Homo sapiens: one gene and its partners. The protein of the gene in region 2 purifies or fractionates together with the protein of the main gene of each other region. This does not show direct contact. Each region holds a gene or a part of one and is shown on either strand. Other genes may lie near its edges.

Region 1 (7,767 bases), on a different chromosome or scaffold from region 2:
TATATCCACAGTCGGTGTCAGGTGAAATTGTCATTTGAAGTCAAAGCTACCCTAAATACAGTCAAATATCATGAAAGTGATTTCTAAAATAAACAAAAATGTACTTGGTCACAGAAAGTTTAAAAAGAAAATTGCAGTCTGTAAACTTCAGATTCACTACCTACCTCTCTGGCTCGATGGAGCTGTGCGCGCTCAATCCTAGAGATGATATCCTTTACTGAGAATGGGATCTCAAGGTTAGGGAGCATCAAAGGACTAAGGATATTTTGGGGCTCTCTTCTCATGATGGTGGAATCCTTGATGCATTTTTCTGATTCAGGGTCATTGTCTATCTCATTTTTCATTTTGAAGAACATTTTGAAAATGTGGGTGATTTCGTTTTATTTCTTCTTTTTCACAGAATCTACAAAAATGCTAATAAAGATATCCAGTAGGAAGCTAGGAGAGGTCTTTCCTGATCCTAGAAGTTGTGGCATACTCTGCTACTAATTGGTGGCTCCCATGATATTCCCGTCCTGTTGATGTCACAATAGACCCATTGTGACATTATCATTGATCAAACATGTAAAGAATGCTTACTATGTGCAGAGAACTGGTCATTCTATATGCTGCCATGGTAGAAGGGTGAGGGGGGAAGGAGGGTAGGAAATAATAGACAACAGGAATGCTAAAATAAACAGAAGATATAGCCCTGCTTAAATAAGCTTAAAATCTAGATGTGTTGGCCGGGTGCAGTGGCTCATGCCTGTAATCCCAGCACTTTGGGAGGCCGAGGCAGGTGGATCACCAGAGGTCGGAGTTCGAGACCAGCCTGACCAACATGGAGAAACCCCGTCTCTACTAAAAAAAAAAAAATACAAAATTAGCCATGTGAGGTGGCACATGCGTGTAGTCCCAGCTACTTGGGAGGCTGAGGCAGGAGAATCACTTGAACCCGGGAGGCGGAGGTTGTGGTGAGCCGAGATCACGTCATTGCACTCCAGCCTGGGCAACAAGAGTGAAACTGTCTCAAAAAAAAAAAAAAAAAAATCTAGGTGTGTCAAATATAACTCCTGGTTCTTCTCTCTTCCTGGGGTTTTGCTTAAGTATTTTTAAGCCTGTAATGGAATAAAGGTTACAACTACTTCCTCAGCTGCCCCTTAACTTTTCCTAGACATGTAGTAACTTGGATGATATCATTTGGATGAAGTAACTTGGATGATATCATTTGGATGAGGATCACACTCTTTGCACTGCTTACTCTTTTTTCTTTTCTTTTCTTTTCTTTCCCTTTTTTTTGGAGACAGAGTCTCACTTTGTTACCCAGGCTGGAGTGCAGTGGTGTGATCTTGGTTCATGGCAACCTCTGCCTCCCAGGTTCAAGAGATTCTTGTGCCTCAGCCTCCCTGAGTAGCTGGAATTACAGGTGCGCGCCACCACGCCTGGCTAATTTTTGTTTAATATTTGCTTCCAATTTTTTTAATAATAAAAAAGCATTACAGAAGGTTGAAGTCCTCTTTGATGTCCCCCACCCCTGGTTCCTTCCTTCCCCACTGTCCCATTCCAGAGGAAATGACAATCATGAATTTTACATATTTGTGTTATCTATTTTTACATAGTTTTACTACAGGTGTATGTATTGTTTTTTCTTTCTTTCTTTCTTTCTCCTTCCTTCCTTCCTTCCTTCCTTCCTTCCTTCCTTCCTTCCTTCCTTCCTTTCTTTCTTTCTTTTTTTTTTTTTGAGGCAGAGTCTCACTCTGTTGTCCAGGCTGGAGTGTAGTAGTGCCATCTCAGCAGACTGTAACCTCTGCCTCCCAGGTTCAAACGATTCTTCTACCTCAGCCTCCCGAGTAGCTGGGATTACAGGCATGCGCCACCACACCTGGCTAATTTTTTTTTTTTTTTTTTTTGAGACGGAATCTCGCCTGTGGCCCAGGCTGGAGTGCAGTGGCATGATCTCGGCTCACTGCAAGCTCCGCCTCCCAGGTTTGCTCCATTCTCCTGCCTCAGCCTCCCGAGTAGCTGGGACTACAGGCGCCCGCCACCACACCCGGCTAGTTTTTTGTATTTTTTAGTAGAGACGGGGTTTCACCATGTTAGCCAGGATGGTCTCGATCTCCTGACCTCGTGATCTGCATGCCTTGGCCTCCCAAAGTGCTGAGATTACAGGTGTGAGCCACTGCACTCGGCCTACACCTGGCTAATTTTTTATATTTTTGGTAGATATAGGGTTTCACTGTGTTGGCCAGGCTGGTCTCAAACTCCTCAAGTGATTCACTCACCTCGGCCTCCCAAAGTTTAGTTGTCAACTAAACTAAATTTGCATTATTCTTTCTCTCTCACTTGCATCTTTTATGCAGCATGGAATTCATCAATCAGCAACTAGACATGAAGGCTTTTCTTTGAGACAAAATCTCACTCTGTCACCCAGGCTGGAGTGCAGAGGCACGATCTAGGCTCACTGCAAGCTCCGCCTCCCAGGTTCACGCCATTCTCCTGCCTCAGCCTCCCAAGTAGCTGGGACTACAGGCGCCCACCACCACGCCCGGCTAATTTTTTGTATTTTTAGTAGAGAAAGAGTTTCACCGTGTTTGCCAGGACAGTCTCGATCTCCTGACCTCGTGGCCTCCCAAAGTGCTGGGATTACAGCCATGAGCCACCACGCCTGGCCATGAAGGCTTCTTAAAGTCAATTTTTAAATCCTGCTTCCCTTTCAATTCGACAAGCATTTGTTGAAACACTATGCAGCTTACATTATCCTAAACTGAAGAATATATGATAGGGTTCCTGTGAAGAAACTAAAACAAAAAAGAAAAGATTTAAGATAGAATATAATAATCAAGTGCTAATAAGGGACACGAAGAAGAGATCTGTAGAAGCAGAATCTTTGAGAAAACCTTATGGAGAGAGAAGGTTGATTGACAAATGGAGGCAATCCAGGTAGGGGCAACACCTTGAGCCATGGCTTTGGCGGTGAGTGCTAATGAGTTTGCATCTTAGGGGGAAAGTAAGGAGATTGGTTTAATCACTGAGATGACTTCACGGGAATTTACTGAGGACCACATTAGGGTGGGCCTGAGATAACAGATATCAGCAATTTGGTGGTGGAATTAATTTGGTATCTGAGGAGATTCCATTTGCGGCAAAGCAAGGAGGATTTCATGAGATCAGAATGGCAAAGTCTTGAAATCAAGTAACAGTGGTTTGGTGAAAATGAAACCTTCACTTTGGGAAGATTTTTTAAATAATAGAATGGAAAAATCCATTGGAAAAGATCAAGACATGATTATTTCATTTTTATTTATTATTATTATTTTTTAGAGACAGAGTCACACTCTGTCACCCAGGCTTGAGTGCAGTGGCGTGATCTTGGCTCACTGCAACCTCTGCCTCCCAGGTTCTAGCAATTCTCCTGCCTCAGCCTCCCACGTAGCTGGGACTACAGGCACACACTGCCATGCCTGGCTAATTTTTTGTATTTTACTAGAGATGGCATTTCACCATGTTGCCCAGGCTGGTCTTGAACTCCTGAGCTAAGGCAATCCACCCGCCTCGGCCTCCCAAAGTGCTAGAATTACAGGCGTGAGCCACGGTGTCCGGCCAATTTTTATTCGTTACTATTATTATTACTATATTTGAGACAGAGTCTCACTCTGTCACCCAGGCTGGAGTGCAGTGGCGCGATGTTGGCTCACTATTAACTCCACCTCCTGGGTTTAAGCGATTCGCCTGCCTCAGCCTCCCGAGTAGCTGGGATTACAGGTGTGCACCACCACACTTGGCTAATTTTTGTATTTTTAGTAGAGATGGGGTTTTACCATGTTGGCCAGGCTGGTCTTGAACTCCCGACCGCAAGTGATCCGCCCGCCTCAGCTTTCCAAATTGCTGGGATTATAGGCGTGAGCCACCCTTCCCAGCCAAGACATGATTATTTCAAAAGATGAGTGTTTGAACTAGGACATACAAGTGGGAGCGATCTATCCTACTACATATTGCTAAAGACAATAAGGAATTTGGACCATCTAACAAAAATTATAGATAATTTTAAAAATTTTGTTTTTATTGTATTTCGTTTGAATTAATGACAGAACGTCAAAGAAGACACTGTCCAGATTAAGTGTTATTACTGGTATATTAAGCGGTGACATGGGTAATTAATTCAAATGAGCCTGGGGCAAAGTTCTTTAAAGGGAAACCCGACCTCCTAGAGGGCTTCTTCAACTGTAAAATGGGGATGATAATAATAGTGTTTATTGCATAGAATTGTTTTAAGATCAATTAACATAAAATGCTTAGTATAGTGCCAAACACAATGTAAGCATTTAATATACATTAGCTGCTATTAACATATTTGCTAGTATCATAGTTTTTTGTTTTTTTTTTCTTGTCTACTTTTCTTCTGTGAGCCACCACTTTTCGGCAGGGTTGGTTTGTTCAGTACACTTCGCCAAGGTCGGCTTTAAAAATCAAATCTAGATTGTGAACTATGAAAACTGCGGAATTATCAGTGCTGTGTAGCTATCTGACAAGTGATAAAATGTGTCATTACGATTTTTACACATCCCCGTGCCACAGAATGGCGTCTCCTTCTAATCGTTCCCCCCGACAGATGATAGTACATCCCACACTGCTGCTGGAAAAGATAGTGCAAAAGTTGAGCGCGCCGAGGGCTCTCTTTTCTCCCGGAAACAATTTTTCCCTAGACCCGGAAGCAGTTGTTGTTTCAAGGGAGGTGGGACTGGGCGGGTCAGGCCGCAGCGGCTGACGGCAGGGGAGGAGCCGGGTCCACTGCCGGGTGGAGGGGCAAGGCGAGTGTGTGTCCTTATCCTAGCAATTGGGGCGCGGGCCTGTGAGCCAGTTGGAGTTGCGGCGGCGGGAACGATTGGGCTGAGCAGAGGACGACATGTTGCTTTTCGTGGAGGTGAGTGCATTATGCTAGTCTCGTCCTGCTCTTAGGAGAGCAGGAGTGTAGAGGCGCCGGCCGGTCCCACCGCCATGTGACTTTCCGGGCCGTACACGCCGCGGAACCGGCAGATAGGCTGACACAGCACCTGGGCCGAGCAGGCCTGCAGCTTCCCTCTGCGCGCTCACAACACTCTAGGAAGCTATGGGAGGTGAGGCCCGTAGTGGAGAAGAATTGAAGGAGAAAAACGGAGGGCTGTTCTGGTGTGGCGGTGAGGTTCAGAGGAAGGGGAAAGTGTCCCATATGGACCTCCTAAAGGAGGCAGCATTGGGGGGTTGGGGGGCGGAGTCTGAGGGAGGAGAGGGTAATCAGGTGGGCGCGTTCCGGGGGCCGAGCGCGGCCTCGCGGGGCCCCTCTGGGAGGGAGGCGAGCAACATGTGGGGCCACGGATGGAGAAAGGTGAAATGCGGTAAGTATTTTGAAAAGAAAATTGAAAAGTTCTTTTGAGCAACTTCCACCAAATTCTGCCCGGGCCCCGTCCCTAGGTCTCTGGAACGTTCTGTGGGTGAAAGCGAGTTACTTTGAATCGAGGAGAAGCCAGTAGGGTTTGGAAGCCTTGAAAGGCACCGCTTTGACCTTTTGTAAAAGTTACTCAAGCAGCAGCTGCGTGATGAAGGGTTGGTTCTATGAACCGATTAAAAGCCCTTTACAAGGAAAATTCCAAGAATGAGGGAAACTTATTCCGGGAAAAGCCGTTTTTTGTAATGTTATTTGAACAATGAGACACTTTTATTACTTAAACTAGAACGTCTGCTGTTGGCCTATTTTAGTTTTCAAGATAGAGTTGGATACCTGCCTTACAGAAATACGAAATTTAATTTCCCTTAATTCTGTCCTCTTGTGTGCAGTGAGCGTCAGCTGACTGCCTGGCTAATGCTTTGAGTAGATTCCAGATCATATTGTTCTTACATTGTGAAAACGTCAAACCAGCAAAGCTGCAACTTCGCAACTTGGCATTTGTTAACTATGCCCATAAGAAGAATCTTTTCAATGAGGGAAGGAATTTACGGGTTGTATAATGAATCTAGGAGCCGGGGCCAGCCTATGGCAGATTTTTTTTTCCGGGTTGTGGGAAAATCTTACTCCGTAATATTCCAGCATAAAGTAAATAAATGATTTTACGGTTTTTTTTTCTCTTTAAACTAACTGATATTGTGTCGCCGATAAGCTTGATATCTTTAAATTAGTTTTTTAAAAGACTGCTACATTAGAGTGTATCTAACATTCATAATAAACATTCATTGGAACATTCCGGGGAAATCATGAAAAGACTTAAAATTACTGAACTCATTCTGTTTACTGTTTTCTGTCCTCATTGTTGTTTTCCTTAGGCAGAATAAGAAATCAGATAAGATTTTAAGCCAGTGCCAGCCAGTTTTTTTAAGGAATGTTATGCTATGTAAATACCACAGGTTTTAAGTGTGTGTTTTGCTGGGCAGAAGAAAGATTGTGAAGTTTATATTGACAGGAACTCCACAATATACTTTTGACTTCCAAATTGATTCCTTTGGCTTTATTAAAATGTAAGTTTTAATAACAGCTCCATTTATTGTTTAAACTAGGTCTTCTCCTGTCTCTAAAGCGATACTTAATATGTTTTACAGATGACAAAACCGAGCCCCAGAGGTTAAAGTAACTTTACTTAGTAAAAGTAAAGTAGTTTAACTGGGATTTAGATCCAGGTCATGCTGATGTCAAATCATGGACGGGATGTTAGCAATTCAGGCCTGTCCGACTCCCCAGGTTAGACAAATTCTATCGTATCTCTCGCCAAACTAGTGTTTAAAAGTTGTATCTCCATTAATCATTTTCTTTGTGAGTCACTATGTCATTCTTCATTTTCTCATATGAGTTTTATTGAAAATTAACTGTCTTTAAATATTTGGGGCTGAATATGTGGTATTAAAATCAGTGAAAAACAACATGTTGGTCGTTTGGCGTTTTGTTAACTAATATTTGATCCCTGTAACCTCATGATAGAGGAATTATTCTCAGTGAGAGAACCAAAGCTCAGAAGTTAGATGTCTAAGGTCATTCAAGTGTAAATAATGTGGGGGCTAAAGTCTGAAGTCTGACTTCTAGAACATAAATTTCTGGCTTCAAAATTATTTTTGTACTTTCCCATAAGTCAAAGGTTCTTAATCTAGGTTTTTGGATAGAATTGAGGAAGTAAGTACCTAAGCTTGGTTGAGGAAAAAAATTTGCGTGTTTATTTTCTCTAGCTTCTAACTGAAATCTAAATGGAAAAGAAGTGAAAATTCTTTAAATGTTAATGGCAGCAACAGTGTATGTGACCTTGTCACCAAGACAAATCACTTTTTTACATGTATTACAGCTTTTGCAGTTATCTTGAAATATTTATGCTCATTACTTGCTATATGTCAAAAATATTGTTAACGTATTGCTATATTAGACATTTTAAAATATTTTGATAACTGCGTTTCAATATAATTGGTTTACTTTGTGATCCTATATATTTTAGAAATGTAAAAAAACGGAGAAGAGATCCATAGATTAATTGGACTACTAAAGAGGTCTGTGTCACAGAAGAGGTTAAGAACTGCTTTACTAAACCAACTTGCTTGTGGATCATCTTTGGCAGGGTTAATCTGGGATCCCTGGGTCCTCTGCAGTTGTGTTCAATACCTTTTACTTATGTGTATTTTTCTGGAGAGATTCCAGCTTAACTATCCCACTAGAATCAGTAGGATAGATAATAGCAATATAACAATAACAACAGTAGTAGTATATACTTGTATCGTGCTTTGTGTCAGGAACGTTTGATGTTTTTGCATATATAGATATCTGTACATCTTAAGTCTCAA
Region 2 (6,952 bases):
TGGATGCCTCTGCTCCTGGAGAAAAGGGCTCTGGCAGGGAAGCCTGAGGGGCTGGTTCCAACTGTACAGGTCCTGTGGACTCCTCAGAAAAGGAATGGTGAGATGGATTTTCATAGGAGAGCCTCTCCAATTTCTCCTTGGGACTTTTTTTTTTTTTTTTTTGAGACGGAGTCTCTCTCTGTCGCCCAGGCTGGAGTGCAGTGGCGCCATCTCGGCTCACTGCAAGCTCCGCCTCCCGGGTTCACGCCATTCTCCTGCCTCAGCCTCCCGAGTAGCTGGGACTACAGGCGCCCGCCACCACGCCCTAATTTTTTGTATTTTTAGTAGAGACGGGGTTTCACCGTGTTAGCCAGGATGGTCTCGATCTCCTGACCTCGTGATCCGCCCGCCTCGGCCTCCCAAAGTGCTGGGATTACAGGCGTGAGCCACCGTGCCCGGCCTCTCCTTGGGACTCTTACCTTGTATGGAATGGAAGTGGTGCCTCTGGGGTCCCAGACACGGGAGAGAGGAAGCAGCCCAGGGGCTGGGAGAAGTGGTGAGACCCAGAAGAACGGTGGACCCAGTCAGGAAGGGTCCTGCCAGCAGGGCGTGGGCCAGCCTCGGGGTCTTCCCCAAAAGGCAGGTAGGGGCCTCCAGCAAGCTTCCCACCTCCGTGAGGCTGGAGAAGAGGCCCCCTGGATGAGAAGGAAGAGGCCGGCAGGTCCGGCGGGCGCAGGCACAGGTAGACTTCTGGTGGGAAAAGCGTGACTCAGCCTCCTCCAGCGGCTGCAGGACGTCCCCCCGCTAGAAAGGGCCGGGCTCCCTTTGCTGACCCAGAGTCAACCCAGCGATTCCTCCCGGGGAGGCGGGGGGCCCCGGCCCCGGCCCAGAGCGCATGCCTATGCCGGGAGCTGGGCGAGGACAGGGCACAGCCACAGCTGGGTGCCCAACGGGAAAGGCGGCCGTTCCCCCTCAAGCTGCACCTGAAGGGGTCCCCAGGGTCGAGGCCACTTCTCCTTCGGCTCAGGGTTGACCTTCAGTGACCACTGTGGCCTGCGGGCATCCCCTGGGAGGGACGGAGGGGGATGGAGGAAAACTCCAAAGGGAAAGGCCGAATCCTGCAGGGTCTGGTCGTCGGAAAGCCAACCATACAGTCAGCCCTCCCTCTCCTCGGGCTGCCGTCGCCATCCGGGTCCACACGGGCTCTAAGACAAAACCCCAATTGCCCCCAAGGCCCCATAGGAGGGGCGCTGCCAGAATCGCCTATTTTTAGTGAAAGAGAACCGGGCCGGGAGACGGCGGCAGGGGGCCGGAGCATTCCCGAGGTCTCGGTCTGGGTGTCGCGAGGCAGGGAAAGAGGGCGGCCCCGGAGCGGAGCGGGAAAGGGGGCGGGGCAGGGTGGGGCCGGACGTGGCAACCTCCCGCTTCCGGGACAGTGACCCGCGGCGCGGCAAGGCCTTTCCCTTGGGCGTGGGTGGGGACCTGGACTCCCTGTGGAACGTTTAAGAAAAAGAGAACCGAATGAGGTTTCGCGAAAGGAAAAAAAATGTAACTGTGATCTAGTGCTGTTGACGGCCGCGAATGGAGAAACCCCGTGTTCTCGAGGACAAATTGGAACTCCTCGGCGTTTTAGGTCCTCAACCCGGGAACCCCTCGCACCGCGAATCTCAGTCCACAGCGGGAGGCGGGTGTGGTCGTTCACCTATTTGTGCCCGAGGGCTCAGGGAGGCGCTGGCATGACCCGAGTGGGGGGCAGCAAGCTGGTTAGCGGGAGGGTGAAGGCAGCGGTCTTCCACGACCACCACAATCACCTGGGTAGGGATTGAGTCCCGTATTGGAAAAGCGAAAGAACAGTCAGCTGGGGGTGCCAAGGAGGCAGGTGATGTATACAAACCTGGAGCCTTAGGATGGTCCACAGGCTGCGGAGGACCACAGCCAGGACAACGTCCCGGAAAGCCCAAGGGAGACTGCGGCGGAAGGCAGGGGAACCTGCAGAGGACCAGGAGAGCAAGCTGTTTCAGGGAGGGATCCTGGCCTTCCCTGCACACCTGGGCGTCTACAGCCTCCGGCAGCTCTGCCACCCTCCCTCGCCTGTCTTCTGCCTTTACGCAGGCTTTCTAGCAGACATTGCCAAGGTTCTTCTCCAGGCCTTCAAGGCCCTAGGTTAACTGCACCCTCCATTTCCCTGCTCTGTCCTCAGCCCCTCCACACTCCAGCTCAGTACGTTGGCACTAACTCTTCCCTCCGATTGAAATATTTTTCCCCCATTTGACTTCCCTCCACAGGAACATTATTCTCCCATATACCCGCAGGGCTCTCTCCGTGTCTCTGTTCCAATGTTCTCCCCTCTTCGCATACCGTAGGAAGTAAACTGCAAATAAAACAAACCAGGGTCCCCCCTCTGTCTTGTTCACAGCTGTGTCCCCAAGACCTAAAATAAGGCCTGGCACCCAAGAGGTGCTAAGTTTCACAACATTTACTCTGCCTTGTTCAGGGCGCTTTACATTTGCTTCTTCACTTTCCACACCACCATGTAATGTAGATACTAATATTATTTCCAATCTCATTTCACAGATGAGAAACGAAAGTTGATAGATGTCACAAATAGAAAAGTATATACTTAGGTATAATGCCCCCTTTATTTTGCATAGATGTTGGTGGCTGCTATCATCCTGATCTGTGCCCCTGTTTAAAACTACTTGAATAGACATGGTGCCAACACTGTCTCTTATAGTCAGAGATGGGTGAGAATGGGAGCCATTACTTATTTAAATTCCTGCGGTCGAGCGGAAGGCAGAAGGACAGTTAGGTATCCGTGTTCCACCGCTTCCCTGTCTGGGCACGTCCTTCAGGGCACAGTTGGACCCCCAGACCCCTGGGCTTTTGTGTACGCTGGCTGGGCCCAGAGAGAGCTTTCCACTAGATGTCCCCAGAAGTCAGAACCTTAAGGTCCTCCTTTGGGCATTTCCGTTTCTGCGAGAGCTTCCCGTGTTCTGGCCTAGGCAGGAACGGATTGGCAGTCTAGCAACACACAGGGCAATTTTTACTTTATTATTTTATTGTATGTATGTATTTATTTATTTGAGTCGGAGTCTCGCTCTGCTGCCCAGGCTGGAGTGCAGTGGCGCGATCTCGGTTCACTGCAACCTCCGCCTCTCAGGTTCAAGGGATTCTCCTGCCTCAGCCTCCCGAGTAACTGGGATTACAGGCACCCCCCACCACGCCTGGCTAATTTTAATTTTTTTTATTTATTTATTTGGAAAGAGGTTGCATCATGTTGGCCAGGCTAGTCTTGAACTCCTGACCTTAAGTGATCCACCCGCCTCGGCCTCTCAAAGTGGTAGGATTACAGGCATGAGCCACCGCGCCCGGGAAAAAGAGACCAATTCTTAGTTCATCCAGAGTAACCCTCTCCTGCCTTAGTCCAGCCTGGACTAAGTCCTTCCGGAGTTGGTGTGCATCAGAACAAAAACCTCGTGAGGGGAGAACACCCTCCGGAAGCACAGTTTTAAAGTTTATTTTTAACATTTTAATACTCTACTTTTTAAATTGCCCATCGTTACCCACGATAGTGAAATGAAAATTAAGCTCCCCTGGGGTTGCCCCGTCAACCCTCCCCGCACCAAGTGGAACAGGCGGAGCTCGAGCTATGCCACATAGGGGCGGGGAAGCAGCCCGGCGGTCCTCATGGGAATGTGCCGTACACTTCACCTCTTTCGCTTCTCGCTCTACATCATCCCTGAGAAGCCTTTTTAAACACTTGAATGTGCTTGTTTCAGAGTGTATTTGTAAAGTGCAGTCAGATTTTGTTGTACGGAAGACGGGACTGTGATGCCTTGCAATTTCCCTCTGCCTTTTGCATTACATGGCGCCGCCATCTTGAGCAGAAATGTATCATGGGGCTCGCCATTTTGCATGGTCGAGCGGGTATTTCCGGTTCCGGCGGGGGGCTTTTCTCTCTCTCTTTCACTGCAAGGCGGCGGCAGGAGAGGTTGTGGTGCTAGTTTCTCTAAGCCATCCAGTGCCATCCTCGTCGCTGCAGCGACACACGCTCTCGCCGCCGCCATGACTGAGCAGATGACCCTTCGTGGCACCCTCAAGGGCCACAACGGCTGGGTAACCCAGATCGCTACTACCCCGCAGTTCCCGGACATGATCCTCTCCGCCTCTCGAGGTACGGACTAAGGTAGATTTCAGGACCCGAGATTGCAGGGCTGGGGGATTCCGCGTGTCGTGTAGGGAATTCCGCGTGTGGTGTGGCAGGCCGGTGGCGCGCGAGTTGGCGGGGACTGACAGACTTCTCTGCCCCATTGTGAATTGGGGCGTGCGGACCCGAGCCTAGGCCTCAACCCGGGCGAACCACATTGCAGATGAGAACCTACGTGTACATCAGCTCGCAGCTGCTAGGAGGGTTGGAGAGTTGGAAACTTTTAAAATATCTTTTGCCTTCTCCTTCGTAGTGTGGCCGGGGGCCTACGGGCCGGGCGGGGCGGTGATGACCCCAACATGCCATCTGAGTGTCGGTGCTGAAATCCAGAGGCTGTTTCTGAGCTGCCGCCCGGCCCAAGGCTCGTGGGGAGGCAGGTGGACTCCAGAGGACCTCGTGGCTCAAGTGTCGGCCTACTTTTTCTGCCCCTGGTTCTCCCCGTCCCTATCCCTGTGTTCCTGACTGCGTTTAGACGCTTCTTGTGCTTCCGCTTTGCTGCTACACTGTTAAGAATTGTCTGACTTTTGAATCATGTCTGGCTGTTAATCGTAAAATTTGTTGAGTGGGACAGGTTTCAGTAAAAGCATCCAATCCTGTAGCGCCTGAAGTGGCTTTTCCAGCATTCATTACTACATTTCTGTCGGCCCTCAGAGGTAGGCATAGGAGGCCCCAGCTACTCTACAGCCACAAACTGCTGTGCATTTGGTTGCAGAGAAGACACAAAGTGGCTGTTGAGTTCGTCTGAGTTTCAGGAAAGGGTGTCTGTATTTCTGGCACCTAAATTAAGTTCTCAGGATACAGGCTGGGCGCGGTGGCTCACGCCTATAATCCCAGCACTTTGGAAGGCAGAGGCGAGTGGATCACTTGAGATCAGGAGTTAGAGACTAGCCTGGCCAATGGTGAAACCGCATCTCTAGTTAAAAAATTAGCCAGACGTGCTGGCAGGTGCCAGCTGGCCAAGTAATCCCAGCTACTTGGGAGGCTGAGGCGGGAGAATTGCTTGAACACGGGAGGTGGAGTTTGGAGTGAGCCGAGATCATGCCACTGCACTCCAGCCTGGGCGACAGAGCGAGACTCCATCTCAAGAAAAAAAAAAGTTATCAGGGTACAGTTTACCTCTACGTGCGTTTTTAGTCTGGAATAGAGCCACTCAGTCCTGGTCTGTAACTGCTCTTGTCTGTTGTTTCCATCCCTCCTTAAGCGTCCTTAGTTGTTGTTAACCCACTCATGACCTTGACACTTAGTGAATTATCCAGTGTGTTAAACGGGCTGCGGGTTCCTCACTGATTTTTCTTCTGTTTTACCTCCTTTAGATAAGACCATCATCATGTGGAAACTGACCAGGGATGAGACCAACTATGGAATTCCACAGCGTGCTCTGCGGGGTCACTCCCACTTTGTTAGTGATGTGGTTATCTCCTCAGATGGCCAGTTTGCCCTCTCAGGCTCCTGGGATGGAACCCTGCGCCTCTGGGATCTCACAACGCAAGTAGCTGCTCACTTAGCTCTGGGGCCTTGGGAAGAATCTGGGCAGAAGTGAGGTGGATGCAATTGGCTGGTTTCCCAGGGGAGATCCAGTCCATTTGGGAACTGGAAAGCAGAGCACACCTACAGAAGATGTTTGGCCTCCCTCACTTTAAATAAGTTACTCAGCATTGCTGAGGAGTGTGGCTGAACATTTTTGCCAGGTGCAAAAGTTCTGAGTGGGCAGCAGTTTGAACATGTTTTACCTTGAAAGCTCAGGTAATTGGCAGGTGGAATTAGAGGGTCCTGGTGATGACAGATGGCATTGTCAGCCAATCCCCAAGTGGGAGTGAGGACATGTCCTGCAATTCTGAAGGGATTCTCTGTCACTTGGCTCTTCTCTTTCATATACTCAGTCACTTGACTCTGTGATCAGAGCCAAATCCAGGGTTGTATGAGTGATGCAATGAGACAGAGACAAAGCCCAGGAAATGAGTCTGACCGTTGAATGAGAGTGTTTGCTAAGTCTGAGAATGACAAACTCCTCCCTCTCAGGGGCACCACCACGAGGCGATTTGTGGGCCATACCAAGGATGTGCTGAGTGTGGCCTTCTCCTCTGACAACCGGCAGATTGTCTCTGGATCTCGAGATAAAACCATCAAGCTATGGAATACCCTGGGTGTGTGCAAATACACTGTCCAGGTAAAGTGAGCCATCTCCAAGGATCTCTTCCACCCTCTTAAACTTTGCTTTTTTTTTTTTTTTTTGGCGACAGTCTCACTCTTGCCCAAGCTGGAGTGCAGTGGCGCAGTCTCGGCTCACTGCAACCTCTGCCTCCCGGGCTCAAGGGATTCTGGTGCCTCAGTCTCCCGAGTAGCTGGTACTACAGGTGCGCAGCCACCACGCCTAGCTAATTTTTTGTGTTTTAGTAGAGACAGGGTTTCACCATGTTGCCCAGGGTGGTCTCAAACTCCTGGGCTCAGGCGATTTGCCTGCCTCGCCCTCCCAAAGTGTTGGGATTACAGGCGTGAGCCCCCACCTGCCTATCTTTGCCTTTTTTTTTTTTTTTCTCGGAGACAGTTTCGCTTGTTCCCCAGGCTGAAGTACAATGGCGTGATCTCGGCTGACCACAACCTCCGCCTCCTGGGTTCAAGCAGTTCTCCTGCCTCAGCCTCCCAAGTAGCTGGGATTAGAGGCATGCGCCACCATGCCCGGTTTTGTATTTTTAGTAGAGACAGGGTTTCTCCATGTTGGTCAGGCTGGTCTTGAACTCCCAACCTCAGGTGATCTGCCCGCCTCAG
Region 3 (8,006 bases), on a different chromosome or scaffold from region 2:
TGTTTCACTTCCTCTAACAGTGATTCTGATTTATTGGAACTGTGTTAGGACTTAAAACCCGTTTTAACAGTGTGCTGATTGTGATGCAAAGGGACCGGCACAACGTAGTAGGTGCTAAGTGTTGCCTGCAGGGGTGGGAAATGTATTTAGCAAGGTAAACAAATGGAGTGTAGGGGAAGTGGGATTGAAATACGGTCTGGAGCTGGGTAACTGTGCATCTAACACTTTGAAAGGAAATAGTGCACCAGTTTTAGCAATACAAAAGATAAATATTTATTCAGAACAAAACTTTTAACAATCAATTTTACATTCTAAGCCACAAGGAAATAGCAAAACATATAGCAAAGGAAAAGCAAACACTAAAAGAAAAGCAGTGTACTGTCTTTTCTACTGGATAACACTTAGTTGGCCCATGACCTCTCGCTTGGCCTATCTCCCAAGTACATTTTAGAGTTAACAGCTCACTCATAATTTTGGGTTAAAATCCATCTTTCTCCTGAGAATCAGGAGTTGCACATGAGCTCCAGCTAGCTGCTTCTCTAGGGTTCGTAGCTATTGAGGCTAAGGTGCAAATGTAAACCTTTGGTAGGTTTCTTTACACAGGGGCACCCCCATTTCTCACTGGTGGCAATGAATGGGGAAGGGGTAGGGCCTCCAAAGGACCTGGCACACTGTAATCCAGAAGTGGTGCCCCAGGGAGCAACGAATGCACCCTGGAGTGTGGTCCTTGGTCCGTTCCGTATCTCCCAAGTATTCAGAAGCCCCTCCTTAAAAACCTTCTCTTTCTGCTCCCTCCTCCAGGTGATTTCTCAGCATTCCTCTGGGCTGATCATTCTGGAGAGATCAGACTTTCTGGGCCCTCAAGTGTTGAGGAAATTGTTGTGAAGTGTGAGAGGTAGTGGAATGAGCACCGGGCTTGGGGTCAGGGGACTCTACTATAGGCTGGCTCTGGCACCAGACAGCTATGTGATTTTCACCCAGTCATTTAACCTCTTTGGGCCTGTTTCATCTGCTGGAAAACCAGGGAATTGGTCCAAACCAACTCTCAGGTTCTTTCCAGCAGGAATATTCTAGATTCCATGATTCTATAAAAAATGGCTTCTGAGCCACCAAAAGAGCTGTCATGAAGTCCATGCATCTTTGTGCCATAAGAGAGGCCCTTGGCCACCATTCAGAGCTTATTGATTCAGATTATATACACTTCTAACAACACTGGTTTCACAAATTCTCAGACCACGTAGATTAAAAGCAGCAAATTAAATGAGGGAGGGGAAGAGCTGCAAAAGGTAGACACTCTGATAGAAGCCACAGTCAACAATGTTTTCAATTCAGCAAACACTGATGGAGTGCCTACCACGTGTTGGGCCCCGTACCTAGTGCTGGGGCATAAAGATGAGCAAGGCAGCCCAAAGGGTGAAAATCCAGGGGAAGAAAAGGTATGGGGCGGGGAGGGCGGGAGGGGGGCAAGGAGAGAGAGAAAAAGTACAAGAAACAAAACAAATACCCAATAGAAAAACGAAAATAAAATTTTAAAAGGGAGGGGCAACACATCTGCACGCTACAGTTCTCCGCAGTCGTTATTGGTGACAGAGTCACCAATTCAGAACAGGCTGAAATGGAGTAAACTCGGTTTAAGAAGGCATAGAGAGATGTCTCTTGTAGGTTTTAAAAAGATCTCCTTCAAAAACGATAAAAAATGGTTTAAAAAAAAGTTTTGGCACTTAAGAGGGATAAGCTGGCTGTGTGTTCACCCTGGCAGGCAGGCGGGTGTTTAGTGCCCGGCCACGCCGGTTAGCTGAGCTGCCACGGAATTGTGCACTGCTTTGGGACACTGGGCAAAGGCGTGTCCTCGCTTGCCACAGAGGTTGCACACGATGCCCTTCCGGCAGTAAGGGCTCAGGTGCCCCTCCTCCCCGCACCTGAAGCACCTGTCCTGCGTGCAGCTGCCGCTCATGTGGGTCCGGGAACCACATTTAAAGCATGTCTTGGGCTGCCCCTTGTACCAGCTGTAGCCCCTCTCGGCCCCCAGGAAGAAGGCCCCTGGCAAGTGCCTGACCCCGCCCTCCCCCTGGCGCAGCTCGATCTCGCATTTGTACTCCCCGGTCCAGATCCCAAACCTGTCGGTCACTTTCACCGGCACGGCCAGCACGTCGCAGTGGCGCTTGAGCCAAGTCACAATGTCCTCCACGTCCACCGTCTCGTTCCGGAAGAGGATGAAGAGCGTCTTCAAGCTGGACTTGCTCCGCCCCAGCACCACAAAGTTCTCCCAGCAGTCCTCCTGCTCCCGCTTCTCCTCGTAGACGCGTAGGAACAGGGCCAGCTTCTCCGCTGAGCGGAAGCTCACGTCGAATTCGCGGCTGCCCGGGATCTGGATGACCGCGTAGATGTCGCTCGGGTCCATGCCGATGGAGCGCAGGATAAGCGCTCCTACCACGAAGTCCCGGGTCGGGCAGGCGCCCTCGTCTCCCTGGAAACAGATGCGGACGAGGAAGCGACCCTTGCCCGGGCCTGCCGCCGCCGCCGGCTCATCCTGGAGGGGCCGCTCGGCCGCGTCCTCGGCCTCGCCGGGCCTGGCCGGGGTCGCCATGGCGGCCGCCGCCGCCTCGGCCTTCTTCCTCCTGCCCGCCTCCGCAGCGCCCTTCTTTTTGCGGGGGTCCACCGCCTCGCCGGCCGGATCTCTCCGACGGCCCTTCGGATCCCCGCGGCCAGCCGGTGGGAAGTCGCCGAGGTCCGGCGCCGCCAGGCCCGCGGGGCCGCCGAGCCCGGCGCTCCCTCCACCGCCGCCGCTTTCCTCCTCCCGCCGCGGCGGCCGCGGCTCGCGGAATTCGCCCTTCTTCTCGGCTAGATTCTTCACCACCTGGGCCCAGCCCATCTTCTCGCGGCCGCCGTCGGCCTCCTCGCCCCGGGCCGCGGGCCGCGCGGGGGGCAGAAGCTGCGGCCGCCCCCGTTTCCTCTCTTCCTCCGCGCCGCCGCCGGTGGCCATTTTACCTCCTTCCCAGCATCCTCCACTCGCTCCCGCAGCCAAAGGGCGCCCATCGCGCGCGCCCGCCCGCCGGGGCTGTGTGGGTTTGGTTTTTTTTTTTTTTTGAAATTTGACGCTACCCTCCCCCGCCGCGCCCTCAAAGGTATCACATGCGGCGCATATTGGCCAGCGCCGGCTCTGCGCCCCCTGCGCTGAGCCTCTCTTCCGCCAGCGCTCGCTCCAACCTCACCTCCGTCCGCAGCGGGATGGGGCGCCCGGAGGCGGCCCTTTCCCCAGCGCGGGTTTGGCAGCCTCCGGCCTCGCTCTCGAGGATTTGGCGTTTCGCAAGCGGTGCTCGACGATTTCATGCTAGCAGCTTTGCTAACGGCCCACAGCCCACAGGCGGGACGGAGTTCGGCAACATCTCTCCCATTTTTTCTTTTTTGTACCTTTTCTGTTAAAAAAGCAAAAGCAATAGCAAAATTAAAACTTAGCTTTCCGTTTCCCCAGAACTGACTGCAATGCGTTATTTTTTTTCCCACGTCGGATTATGCACGTTTTCAAGAAGAAAAGTTGAAAGTTTTACAGTGAACATTTTACCATTAACTTTTTATCATTAAAATTTTACTCTGTCACACTACGCCTCGATCCATTCATCGGTCTTTATTTTTTGATACATTTCCAAGTAAGTCATATTGCATTAATTTTTATTTTTTTGAAAAGACTTTCGTCGTATTTAGGATGAAGTGTGAGTGCTGCTTAAGTTCCCAGTACTGTGTTAAGCACACTTCAGACTTTATTACATGGAATCTTCCAAAAACAATGCTGTAATTATGCCCATTTTACAGATAAAGAGGCAGGAGTTAAGTCACTTGGCGGAGTTAATAGGCAGCCCCACGTATAGGTAGCTTATATTTCTTTCTTTCTTTCTTTTTTGAGACGGACTCTTGGTCTGTCGCCCAGGCTGGAGTGCAGTGGCTCAATCTCGGCTCACTGCAGGCTCCGCCTCCCGGGTTCACGCCATTCTCCTGCCTCGGCCTCCTGAGTAGCTGGGACTACAGGCGCCCGCCACCACGCCTGGCTAATTTTTTGTATTTTTAGTAGAGACGGGATTTCACCGTGTTAGCCAGGATGGTCTCGATCTCCTGACCTCGTGATCGCCCGCCTCGGCCTCCCAAAGTGCTGGGGTTACAGGCGTGAGCCACCGCGCCCGGCCGGTAGCTTATATTTATTTAACCACTTTATTTCTGACGCCGTGGATCAAGAACTGTGCATCAGATCCTAGGAAACCTTGTTAACAGGCAGATTCCCTTCATCCCAACTGCTGGTATTGGTCTCAGGGGAGCCACTGACTTGGGCCGTTTGCACTTTCCAGTCCTCTCACTTTATATCCTCAGGCACCATTTCCTTTATCCCTTCTCAGCCACGCATTCCCGTGATCATACTCGGAACTTCACCATTACCAGAAACATCAATGTCTTAGATTCACATACTTCTCTGTTATTCTTTCTACTTGCCTGGTCAAGTTTCACCATGAGGAGAATACTTACACAACCAAACAATAGATGTATTTTAAACAATCTCTTCCATTCCTCTTATCTTAAGCCCTCACTCCAGGTAACTATCACATAATCAAATATCTGCAAGGGTCAGGCAGGTGCCTTAAGTAGAAGATATACTGGGTGAACTGGAGATCGAATATTCTATCTGAAGGGGCAACTGCTAGTCAACTGTAGCTGAATATTCCTCTCCAGAAGTGAGGGTCCACTGTGGGGGGATCTTTCAGTTTCCAAAGAGAAATCTGAACTCCAGTTTCTTCTTTTATGGGAAACATTCTTCTCTCTCTTTCGTCTTCTTTAAGATGGTCTCAGCTATATTTGGAACCTCCATATAAATTTCACAACCTGCCTACTAAGTTCCAGGAAACTATGAGATCTTAATTGGCGTTGCACTGCATTTGTACAGAATTACCACTTTATAACACGGAGTCTTTCCATCAATGACCCCACTTGATTTCTCACTTATTTAGGCCTTATTTTATGAATTTCAATAAAATATTATAGTTTTCTTCATAAAGGTCTTACATACTTTTGGGGATTTATTCCAAAGTACCACGTGGTTTGACTGCTATTGTAAGTGAAATTATTGTAAATCAGAAGTTACATATGGTTTGTTGGTGTCCGTTAGAGGAAACACGATTGAATTTTGTGTACTGACCCCATATCTGGCAACAAAGTTGAAACCTTAAAAAATTTCCAGTGGTTTTTGGAATCTCTTTACTTTTCTGTATTGCCAATCATATCGTCTGTGAATAATGAAGGTTTTGTCTCTTTTTTCAAATCTTATACTTTTTCTTGTCTTACTGCACTAGTCAGGAACTCTCATATAATCAACGTATTTTGAGCATTTTTGTTTTGTGTTGGACTTTAAAGGCATCTGTCTGTATTTTGAAAATATTTGACTTGTGGATTAGGTTCTGGCTCCATGTCCAATTTTGCTAATCATATCTTCTTCTGTTGTACAATTTCATTGGTATGTGTAGGGCCATCCTTTTGGTCAGTTTCATTTTTTCCAGGTCAAATTTTGCAGAGATTATTACATCAGGAGCTACAGGGGCCAGGCAGGTACCCTGCAAGGAGAGCAGTCCGGATGGGCACTGAGGCCGTATGGAGAGAGCAGCTCTGGAGGGCTGTGCAGATGATAAGAAGGAATGTCTAGGATCTTGTTATGTCGAGTATAGCAGGTGTCTCCACAAGAACCACGGCATCTTACCCAGTGACAACAGTAGGGATTGTGGGTTTAGGATGCTGTGCACATTTGCCACAAAGCCAGCACATCAAATGACATGGATGGAAGCCCGAGACTGCCTGCTCAGCCTAGTCCACCTCTCAGCAAGATGTTGATGGAATCAGAGCCCAGGTTGCCATTGCTGAGCCTGGAGCCAAGCAGGCCTGAGAGGCCCTCTATCACATTTATCACCTCACATGTGCAGGGAGGAAAGGCCAGCTCATCTTGCCCACCTATCCTGGGGGCAGGAAGTTCCATCAGGTGTTCGTGAACACAGAAATGCCACCTGAACAGGTGTAAGTGCAAATGGACCCCATCTGATTCAATCCCAGTTCCAACAGCTTTGTTACAGGTGATTGTCAGTGGCCCCTCAAGTGTGTTTTGGCTTTGATTAAGATGGCAGCATTTTTGCAAATGTTTTTATGTATTTTTTTTAAAAATTTGAAGTGGGGCCAGGTGCGGTGGCTCACACCTGTAATCCCAGCACTTTGGGAGGCCAAGGCGGGCGGGTCACCTGAAGTTAGGAGTTCGAGACCAGCTTGAGCAACATAGAGAAACCCCGTCTCAACTAAAAATACAAAATTAGCCGGTTGTGGTGGCGCATGCCTGTAGTCCCAGCTACTCGAGAGGCTGAGGCAGGAGAATCACTTGAACCCGGGAGGCAGAGGTTGTGGTGAGCCAAGATCATGCCATTGCACTCCAGTCTGGGCAACAAGAGCGAAACTCTGTCTCAAAAACAAAAAAAAATTGAAGTGGGAGGCAGTAATATTACTGGTTAAGTACCTGAGATGTGGGGCACAGGCAGCTCTCAGTGGGTGTCCATGCTGGGTCAGCATGTCTGATGAGGAAGGCTGTCTGACAGTGGCCAAGCTCTTCTTTGTATTAATCAAGGTACAGGTTAAGCTACTGTAACAAAGGGACTCTCAAATACAGGGTCTCAGACAAGGTGGAGGTTTATTTCTCTTTGATGAAGCAGCTCGGAATTTGGCAGGCAGTAAGGACAGGTAGGTGACTTTCTCCTGCAAGGTTGTCAGGGACCCACCCAGGTTCCTTCTATCTTGTTGTTCCTCCAGACGTAGGGTTCAGTAAAATGCTTTTGGTCTGCAAGTACCAGAAAACTCAACTCAAATTTGCTCACCCAGTAATGTGATTTCTTATTTAATCTCAAGTATTTTCTAGATAGGTGAAAGGTTAATTTAATTAATTAATTTCTTTTAGAGACAGAATCTTACTCTGTTGCCCAGACTGGCGTGCAGTGGCACAATCATAGCTCACTGCAGTCTCAAACTCATGGGCTCAAGCAATCCTCCCACCACAGCCTCCCAAGTAGCTGAGACTACAGGTGCACATCATCACATCTGGCTAATTAAAACAAAATTTTTTTTTTCTGAGATGTGGTCTCACTATGTTGCCCAGACTGATCTCAAATGCCTGGCCTCAAGCGATGCTCCTGCGTCAGCTTCCCAAGTAGCTGGTATTACAGGCACATACTATTGTGCCAGGCTAGGGTTGGTTAATTTAATGGCTCAACAGTGCTATCAAGGAAGAAGGTTTTTACATTTTCCTCTCTACCATTCACTGTATATCCTCTTTGGCCAACTCCCCTCACAGTTCCGCGATTCCAGGAATCCCACACAGATATGACAATGTCTACCAGCAGATGAAGGAATGTTTTTCTGCAATGCCTTTTTTTAAAAGTGTGATGAAAACCTTTCCCAAAAGCCTTTGAGTAGATTTCTCATCCTGTCTTCTTAGCCAGACTTTCATCATGTATCTATGACTAGACCTCTAACTGGAAAGGGAAATTGGCTCACCAAGTCCAGCCTCAGACAGTCATGACTATTGGAGCTGGGACTAGGACTAGGGCTGGACCTGGGGCCTGCCTCCATTAAGGCAAGTGCATACATGGACAAGATCAGGATCCAATAGTTGCGATGATGGGGAGGAATGGCTGTTGAGTAAGTCACTACCTGGATCTGTCATGTATTCCTATCTTTTACTTTTTTTTTTTTTTGAGATGGAGTTTCATTATTGTTGTCCAGGTTGGAGTGCAGTGGCGTGATCTTGGCTCACTGCAACATCAGCCTCCCTGCTTCAAGTAATTCTCCTGCCTCAGCCTCCCAAGTAGCTGGGATTACAGGCACCCGCCACCACGCCTGGCTAATCCTATTTTGTATTTTTAGTAGAGATGGGGTTTCATCATGTTGGCCAGGCTGGTCTCGAACTTCTGACCTCAGGTGATCCATCTGCCTCGGCC
Region 4 (7,531 bases), on a different chromosome or scaffold from region 2:
CTCCAAAGTTCCTAAGCCAACTAAATATAAATGTAAACCTGTTTCGAAATGATGTTAGTGTTAAGACATATGCTACTCGAAACCCACCCTCGCCCCCCGCAATAAACACGAAGGACGAAAATCTAAAACCAACACTTACATATACTCCAGGTTACTACCAGAATATTTAAATGGCAGAATCCGAAATGAAATTGTTAAGATTAAACCTTATGACAGACAGTCTCAGTATCAACCGTATTTAATTTCATACCTTAAAAGTAAAACCGGCCGAGCGTGGTGGCTCACGCCTGTAATCCCAGCACTTTGGGAGGCCGAGACAGGCGGATCACCTGAAGTCAGGAGTTCGAGACCAGCCTGGCCAACATGGCAAAACCCCGTCTCTACTAAAAATACAAAAATTAGCCGGGCGTGGCGGCGGGCACCTGTAATCCCTGCTACTCGGGAGGGTGAGGCAAGAGAATCGCTTGAACCCGGGAGGCGGAGGTTGCAGTGACCCGAGATCGTGCCATTGCACTCCAGCCTGGGCAACAAGAACGAAACTGTCTCAAAAAAAAAAAAAAAAAGTAAAACCGAGGTAAGGTCAGCAAGGTCTTTGTTTTGGACAAGAAGCACAGAAGAGTTACAAACAAGCTTTTAAAATCAGATCCTTATAATAAAAACGAGTGTGTGTGTGTGTTTACTATTACCGTTTTCTGAGCTATCAATTTCTCACGGCCTGACTATGCCTATGGTCAGGTCATGAGAAATCTGTATGAAAAACAGCTTCCAAGAATGTCTATTCTTATGAAAATAAATATTAAAAACTTTCTGTAGAAAAAAAACTTTCAGTATAGGTAAAGTTACAACTGTTCACATCATTACTTTGTTCTATTAATACACACAAAATTAATTCCGACAACTGAACTAGTCATTTTAAAAACCCTGTTTTGCATTATTTCCCCCAACAAAGCATCCTAGGGGTGCTACAGTGAAACATGCTCAAAGACCATTGCCACCTCTGCTGTTCTGGAACAATGTAAATTTCTTCAAGGTGCCCTCTACTAACCAAGTTCATCTGGCCTGGGGCTAAGTTTTATCATTTATTCTTTCATACAGTACTGAAGGAAATCCGGAATCTATGAATATCATTGCCAACACCCCCTACACATTTCAAACCAGCTACCACTGTCCTCTGAAATCACTCAAGCCAGGTTTCCAGGGTCTCAACTCATTCGCATAGTTATTCAATTCCAACTGCAGGAAATCACTTGCATAAAGTAGGCCTTATGCAGGCTCAAATTACATTCAGGGACGTACGAGGCTCTCACAGCGATCACCATAAATTGGCTACCTTGTACTGGCCGAAGTACGTCAACGTGAACACCAGACACTCGAGAAAAACCGAACCTCGGCTACACAATGGATTAACCCAGTCAGAAGGCTCCAACTTGCAACTCCTTAAAGACGCTGAAGTTGGACATCTACAGAGCACCATTTTGAGTTTAGAATCCGCAGTTCACGCCTAGAAATAACCGAGCGGACCACTCAAATGGAGGTTTCATTTGGCGGAGGCAAAGGTTTGAGACAACTCCACTAATTACGTGCAGAATCACCAATACCGTCAAATGCCTTCGAATGCAATAGGTGCAGCCACGATCTAGCGGCTCCTCCTCCCCTACCTCCCGGCACAACATCCAAGCAGCAAGCCTTCATTTTTGCTAAGATCCCCAAAGCTCCGTGTAACATGCTTGCCAGTTATTTCTTCCCCAGGTTAACAGGCAGGGAACCCCCACATCCACATCTGCACATTTTCATAGCTACGAATCAATTAATTAAATCTCGTCCTCAAGGTAAAGGTGCAAAGGAGGCACCGCTTAAAGCAGAGGCGGCAACCAGGCGCTCGGGTTACGTTATCTGATAACAGGACAGATGTTGTACGGCTCGTTTTCCTCATACGCATTACTCCGCAGTCCGCAGCACCGTTAGAAAATCCACCTGATTTCAGAGCCGCAGAGCGCCCAGGGGTCCTTCTCCGCCCACCCGCAGCACGCCCCGGGTTTTTCTCTTCCCCCAAACAACGGCACCGGGCTCCTGCACCAAAACACGGCGGGTTCGCGCCTGCCATCACCAGTGCAAAATCTGCGGGGGGCTGCCCGGAAAGGACCGAATTTCACCGCTGCATGAGTTTTAAAAGGGAGGGGGCACATCCATCTTCAGCCCTCCATTCCACTCCCGTTTGATTGTGATGCACACCGGGCGTCTGCACAGCCCCGTCTCACACTAGCACACACGCGCCCCGGCCCCGGCCGCTTCCCGCCGCTCCCCTCAAACCCGGCCGGCCCGGGGCCTGGCGCCGCACGCGGGTCGCTAGGGGCCAGCGCCCGCCCCGGCTCGGCTCGGCCGAACAAAGGGCCCGCGAACCTCCCGGCAAAGTTGCGGCTGCGGCGAGGAGCGGGCGGACTGCCGCGCTCACCTGGGCTCCGTCCCCGGCGGCGGCGGCGGCTCCGCGGGGCTCCGGTGGCGCGGGCCTGGCGGCGGCGGCGGCACGAACAACCGCCCGAGGGCCTCGGGAGTGCGCGGGCGGCGGGGGCCCGCTCAGCGCCGGCGCCACGGACTCAGGTCCCGGCGCGGGCGGCGGCGGCGGCTGCGGCGGCGGCGCGGGCGAGTGGGCGGCGGCGCGTCCCGGCAGGTCCAGGTCCGGCCCCGGCAACGCCGCGACGCGTCCTCCTCCTCACGCCCGGCGGGATGCGGCTCCGGCGGGGTCCGGGTCCTAGGCGGCGGCGGCGGCGGCGGTGGCAGCTGCGGACGGCTGGGCGCGGGGCCGCTCCGCTCCCTCCGCCTCCGGCTCGGGCGGGCCCGCGGCTACTGCGACGGTGACGGCGGCGGGAGCGCGGCGGGCGCTGGGACTGCCCTGTCAGGGGGCGGCCCGGGCGGCGCTCAAGACTGCGCGGCGGCGGGGCCGGCGGCGGCGGCTACGGCTCCCGGGGCCGTCGCGCTGAGGTGCGGAGCTGCCACCGCGGCCATCTTGTTGCTCTAACTGACAAGAACCCCCCTCCCCCCGCTTCAGCCAGACGGGGCGCTCGCGCCCCCTTCCCCGCCCCGCGTTGGCCTCCAACAGGAAGTCGTCCCGGCCCCTAGCACGTGACTCCCACCGTATCTGCATACCGGAGGGCGAACTGGCCAATCGGCACTCTGCACCTGAGCTCCTCCCCCGCGCGCCCCTCCCGGCCCATTGGCTCCTCGGCCAGGCCACGCCTCCTCCTTTCCCCTTAATACCCGCCCGCGCTGTGGTTCCCTGCACCGCGCGGGGAGCGCGCCGGGGTGCGAGCGGTGCGCGCTCCGAGTGGCCGGGACGCGCGCCAGTCCTGGGAGCTTGCACTGCTCGGGGGGGTTACGTGGAGACTTGCGTGGTGTCCTTTACCGCCGCCGCCTGCCCTCCGGTCCCTGGGCGCTGTGGCTCCGCGTTAGGGTGCTGGCGGGAGGGGTGCCGATCCGGTTCTGCGCGTCCGGTGGGTTCTCCGGGCCAGCGCCCCGCGGCGCCCGGGCTTTATGCTGTAATTGCGCCCGGCGGCGCCCGGCGCCCGCACCGGCGCGCGTCTCGCCCGTGCCGTGCACACGCCCTGCACCGCCCCACTTTGCACACGCACACGCACACGAGTCCTTGGGGCCCTGGAGCATCGTGCTCGCCTCGCGCCTCCCGGCCCGCCCTTGCGCTCAGTCGCTCCCCAGGGAGCGCCCAGCTGCGAGCAAAACAAGCCTCGCTGCGAAACAGTCCCCCGGGGAGACAGCCCTTTCCCCGGAGCACAGACACCACACCTTCACCGCGCAAGCCTTCGGTCCGGGCCGAACCCGGGCGCTCCGGCGCCTACGCACCCCACGATTCCTCCCCGGTGCTCCGTACGCCGCCGTGATCCTCCATTCCACGGCTCCTCGATATCCATTATTCATTAGTGGTAGGTAAGGTCAGGCGCAATGTGCAATTCGAAAAGTCCCTTTTTAACTTTCGGTTCAAGCCAGGAGAAGATTTTGAAACCAAGAATTTTCTCCATTTTCATGCAAGGTCGCAGAAGCAGGCTAGCTTTTCCCCCATCGTTCAGTGGAGGATCAGCAGTGCTACTTGGAAGTTGGTATTGGAAGAGGCCATTCCCTGTCTACGTGTCCCTGTCTTGAAGAGGAGATAATAACACACTAGTACTTTCGCAATGCAATTTTGTTACCGCAAGTGTCATGCTTTGAAACGACTGTGGATGAAAGAGACAAATTCCCCGCTCTCGTTTCCCTTCAGGGTCCCATGAGCTCCTTTCTTCTTACTGCCATATTTTAAGCCCTCCGGTAGTCAGATTCACAACCAGCCTCTAAAGGGTCGTCAAATGTCTGTTGTATCGTGTTGTGTATTTCCCCTCCCGAGAACCCACATCCCTTAGAAGGATCTGAAGGCAGAGGGAGCTGACATGGAGGCTTCTGCCTTGTCTATTCATTTTATTTACGTTCATTTAATTCTCGACTGCAGAGAACCTACATCTTTTGTATTTCTCAAAGGTAGAGGTATTATCACATGCTCCAGAAGGGAGTGCAAAATAACATCTTCAAAATAGGCAGCGCCCACGAAGTAGACTGCTGCTACATAAATGAGGAATCCAGGTATCTGGGTGGACCAGAGTGGACCAATCATTGTGATAAGCAGAGCTTCACTTTTTGGAAAATTGAACCAAAATACATTATTTAGCATTGTCTTTGGTTCCCTTTCTTATCCCCCTCCCTCAGTTTAATCAGGCAAAAATCGTCCTCTTCTCCAATGATATTAGACTCTGAGCACCGAGAAAAGGCAGAACTATAGAGACTATATGTTCTGAACCCCAAACTGGACTCATAGTTTGGCATGTGGACCTGTGACAGTAGAGATAATGTTTGAAACTAAAGTTGACCCAGAAACATTGAGGCATATGGTGGCCATGAATGTTAAGACTGCAGAGCAGTGTCACTTATTAGTGGTTGTTTGAACTGATAAAGTATGAGTAGGAACCCCAGGCACAACTGTAAAAATGGGTACGTTCATGTTTCGGGTTGGTCATCCTGTTATCAGCCCTGCCACCACCACCTTATAACTAAGGTATAAGTTGATCATCTATAGGGCTGGGCATGGTGGCTCACGCCTGTAATCCCAGCACTTTGGGAGGCCAAGGCAGACGGATCAGGAGGTCAGGAGATGGAGACCATGCTGGCTAACATGGTGACATCTCTACTAAAAATACAAAAAATTAGCCAGGCATGGTGGCGGGCGCCTGTAGTCTCAGCTACCTGGGAGGTTGAGGCAGGAGAATCCCTTGAACCTGGGAGGCAGAGGTTGCAGTGAGCAGAGAAGGCGCCAATGCACTCCAGTCTGGATGACAGAGCTAGATTCTGTCTCAAAAAAAAAAAGGGTAAAACCAACAAAATTACGTTTAAGAGGACTAAATGTTAAATGTGTCTCTTAAATTAAAATGTCAACTAGTTGAGGACAAATGAAGAAGACTTAGCTGGATACAAGGTAATGTAAAAAATTCTAGTTATAGATGACCACACGTTCAACAAGGCTAAATGTGTGAACTGCTTGAAGACGACAACAACACTACGTTAAAATAGTGTCCAGTTTAAGAGATTGCACTCTGAGCTGGTCAGATCCCAAATGGAGTGTTTTGGCCAGTTCTGAGCACCAGGGTGCAAGAAAGAAATCGACAAAGTTAGAGACTGACTCAGAATACAGCCAGTTGTTGATGGAAATCCTCCAGTCTGACCAACAGCTGAAGAAGCAGAAGAGATTGGTGCAGGGAAGAAGAGACAAGCAGGCCAGGATGGCTCTTTTCAGATATTTTTGAAACTCCTGTATGCAAATAGGTACAGATATATTCTTTGAAATCCTGAGAAGCCAACCTGAGATCAGTGGGTGGTAGATATTAGGCAAATTAGTTCAAATATACACTGCACCCTACAAAATGGAGTTTCTATCAAATGGAGTTATTAATAGAAACTCCATTTCGTAGGGTGCAGTATATACTGCTCAGGTGATGTGTGCACCAAAATCTCACAAATCACCGCTAAAGAACTTACTCATGTAACCAAATACCACCTGTACTCCAACAAGCTATGGGAAGAAAAAGAAACTCCATTTAGAAAGGTAGCAAGATCCACATCTGTGCAGGGGTTTAAGTGGAAAGACAGGATGATCACGTCCCTATCTCCATGACTATTGCAAAACAGATTACTGTGTTGACTAGCTCAGGGTTTCCCAAAGTGTGTTCCCCCAGACCAGCGGCATTGGCTTTACCTAGGAGCTTGTTAGAAGGGCAACTTCTCAGACCCCATTGCCAGACCCAGTGAATCGAAACCTCTGGGGATGGGGCCCAGGTATCTCCATCTTAGCCAGCCCTCCAGATGATTCTGAGGCGATGAAAATTGGAGGAGAGTAATAAAGACACCTTTTTGAGGGCTGTATTTGCGTATAATACCCCTCTCCATGCCCAGTCACTTCCTACCACACACTGGTGCCTGAATTACTCCATCCTCCTATTTCTGTTGATTTTACACGTATAATTTGCATCCTAATGATGGACTCTTAAAGGGAAAACCTTCAGGACTCCAACAAATGATTGCTTTTCAATGAAAATGTAAGAAAGCCGGGCTCAGCTCTCCCTGCTTGTCACCGATAGATAGCAACTGAACTGACTTAGAAAAATGTGATAAATTTACAGAGGCCTTTCAGACAAGCAGCAAGGCACAGGGCGTCGGTTCTCAAACTTTCTGTTGATGAGAATCGCCAGGGTAGCTTGTTTGAATTACAAATTCACCTTAGGTCCAGATGAGGCCCATGTATCTGCATGTCTAATCAGCTCCCCAAGTGATTCTGATGCCTTTGTCCTCCCACTATGCTGATAATAATATTGGAATAGAGACTAGAACCTTACAATAAAAGTAAGGGTGAGTCTCAACTCCACTGCTCACTAATTGTTTGACCTTAGGCAAGTTTCTGGGCCTCTGACTTCTCCTTTGTACTCCTCACTGAGTTAGAGATACTTGCTGAATTGCCGTGTATTACGTGCCAGGCAGCGAACTAGGTGCCAGGGATTTAAAGCTGCAAGCCGTGCTTGAGCTATGATTACAATGCATGGAGGTGCTGCAGGAGACAGAAGAGACTCAGGTCATTCTGAAGGGCTCAGGAAGACTTCTCCAAGGGCCTCAGATCTGAGTCTTGAAAGATGCAAGGGAAAGCAGTAATAGGTCAGAAGCTGATGGAAGGGCACTGAAGAAAGAGGGAAAGGTCAGTGTAAAGGAAACCCAAGAGAGCTTGCAGCGCAGCACTTTCAGGGGGCTGGAAGACATTAGTGGGGCTGCAACAGCCCAGGTAAGAGGAGATGGGAGAGATGAGCAGAGGCCAGATTATTATTATTATCTTTGTTTTTTGGAGATGGAGTCGTGCTCTGTCACTCAGGCTGGAGTGCAATGGCACAATCTTGGCTCACTGCAACCTCTGCCTCCCGGGTTCAAGCAATTCTCCTAACTCAGCCTCCCAAGTAGC

The links.
Region 1: the proteins of RACK1 (region 2) and LARP4 purify together in Homo sapiens (affinity purification with mass spectrometry; 5 studies listed by BioGRID and IntAct, with this or other methods). This does not show direct contact.
Region 3: the proteins of RACK1 (region 2) and ZCCHC3 purify together in Homo sapiens (affinity purification with mass spectrometry; 4 studies listed by BioGRID and IntAct, with this or other methods). This does not show direct contact.
Region 4: the proteins of RACK1 (region 2) and TNRC6C purify together in Homo sapiens (affinity purification with mass spectrometry; 5 studies listed by BioGRID and IntAct, with this or other methods). This does not show direct contact.

What each region holds. Positions count from the first base shown.
Region 1 is NC_000012.12:50,396,129-50,403,895, forward strand, and holds the start of LARP4 (la-related protein 4), read left to right. Parts: upstream 1-4,756; 5' UTR 4,757-4,882; coding exon 4,883-4,900; intron 4,901-5,020; exon of another isoform or gene 5,021-5,153; intron 5,154-5,278; exon of another isoform or gene 5,279-5,351; intron 5,352-6,546; exon of another isoform or gene 6,547-6,643; coding exon of another isoform or gene 6,644-6,685; intron 6,686-7,767. Other genes in the region: protein FAM186A, read right to left, coding at 165-356. UniProt on the Homo sapiens protein: RNA binding protein that binds to the poly-A tract of mRNA molecules. Associates with the 40S ribosomal subunit and with polysomes. Plays a role in the regulation of mRNA translation.
Region 2 is NC_000005.10:181,240,893-181,247,844, reverse strand, and holds the start of RACK1 (small ribosomal subunit protein RACK1), read left to right. Parts: upstream 1-3,938; 5' UTR 3,939-4,044; coding exon 4,045-4,153; intron 4,154-4,468; exon of another isoform or gene 4,469-4,531; intron 4,532-5,499; coding exon 5,500-5,671; intron 5,672-5,955; exon of another isoform or gene 5,956-6,027; intron 6,028-6,205; coding exon 6,206-6,353; intron 6,354-6,952. UniProt on the Homo sapiens protein: Scaffolding protein involved in the recruitment, assembly and/or regulation of a variety of signaling molecules. Interacts with a wide variety of proteins and plays a role in many cellular processes.
Region 3 is NC_000020.11:292,564-300,569, reverse strand, and holds ZCCHC3 (zinc finger CCHC domain-containing protein 3), read right to left. Parts: upstream 3,001-8,006; 5' UTR 2,984-3,000; coding exon 1,772-2,983; 3' UTR 249-1,771; downstream 1-248.
Region 4 is NC_000017.11:77,954,190-77,961,720, reverse strand, and holds the start of TNRC6C (trinucleotide repeat-containing gene 6C protein), read right to left. Parts: upstream 3,019-7,531; 5' UTR 2,453-3,018; intron 1-2,452. UniProt on the Homo sapiens protein: Plays a role in RNA-mediated gene silencing by micro-RNAs (miRNAs). Required for miRNA-dependent translational repression of complementary mRNAs by argonaute family proteins.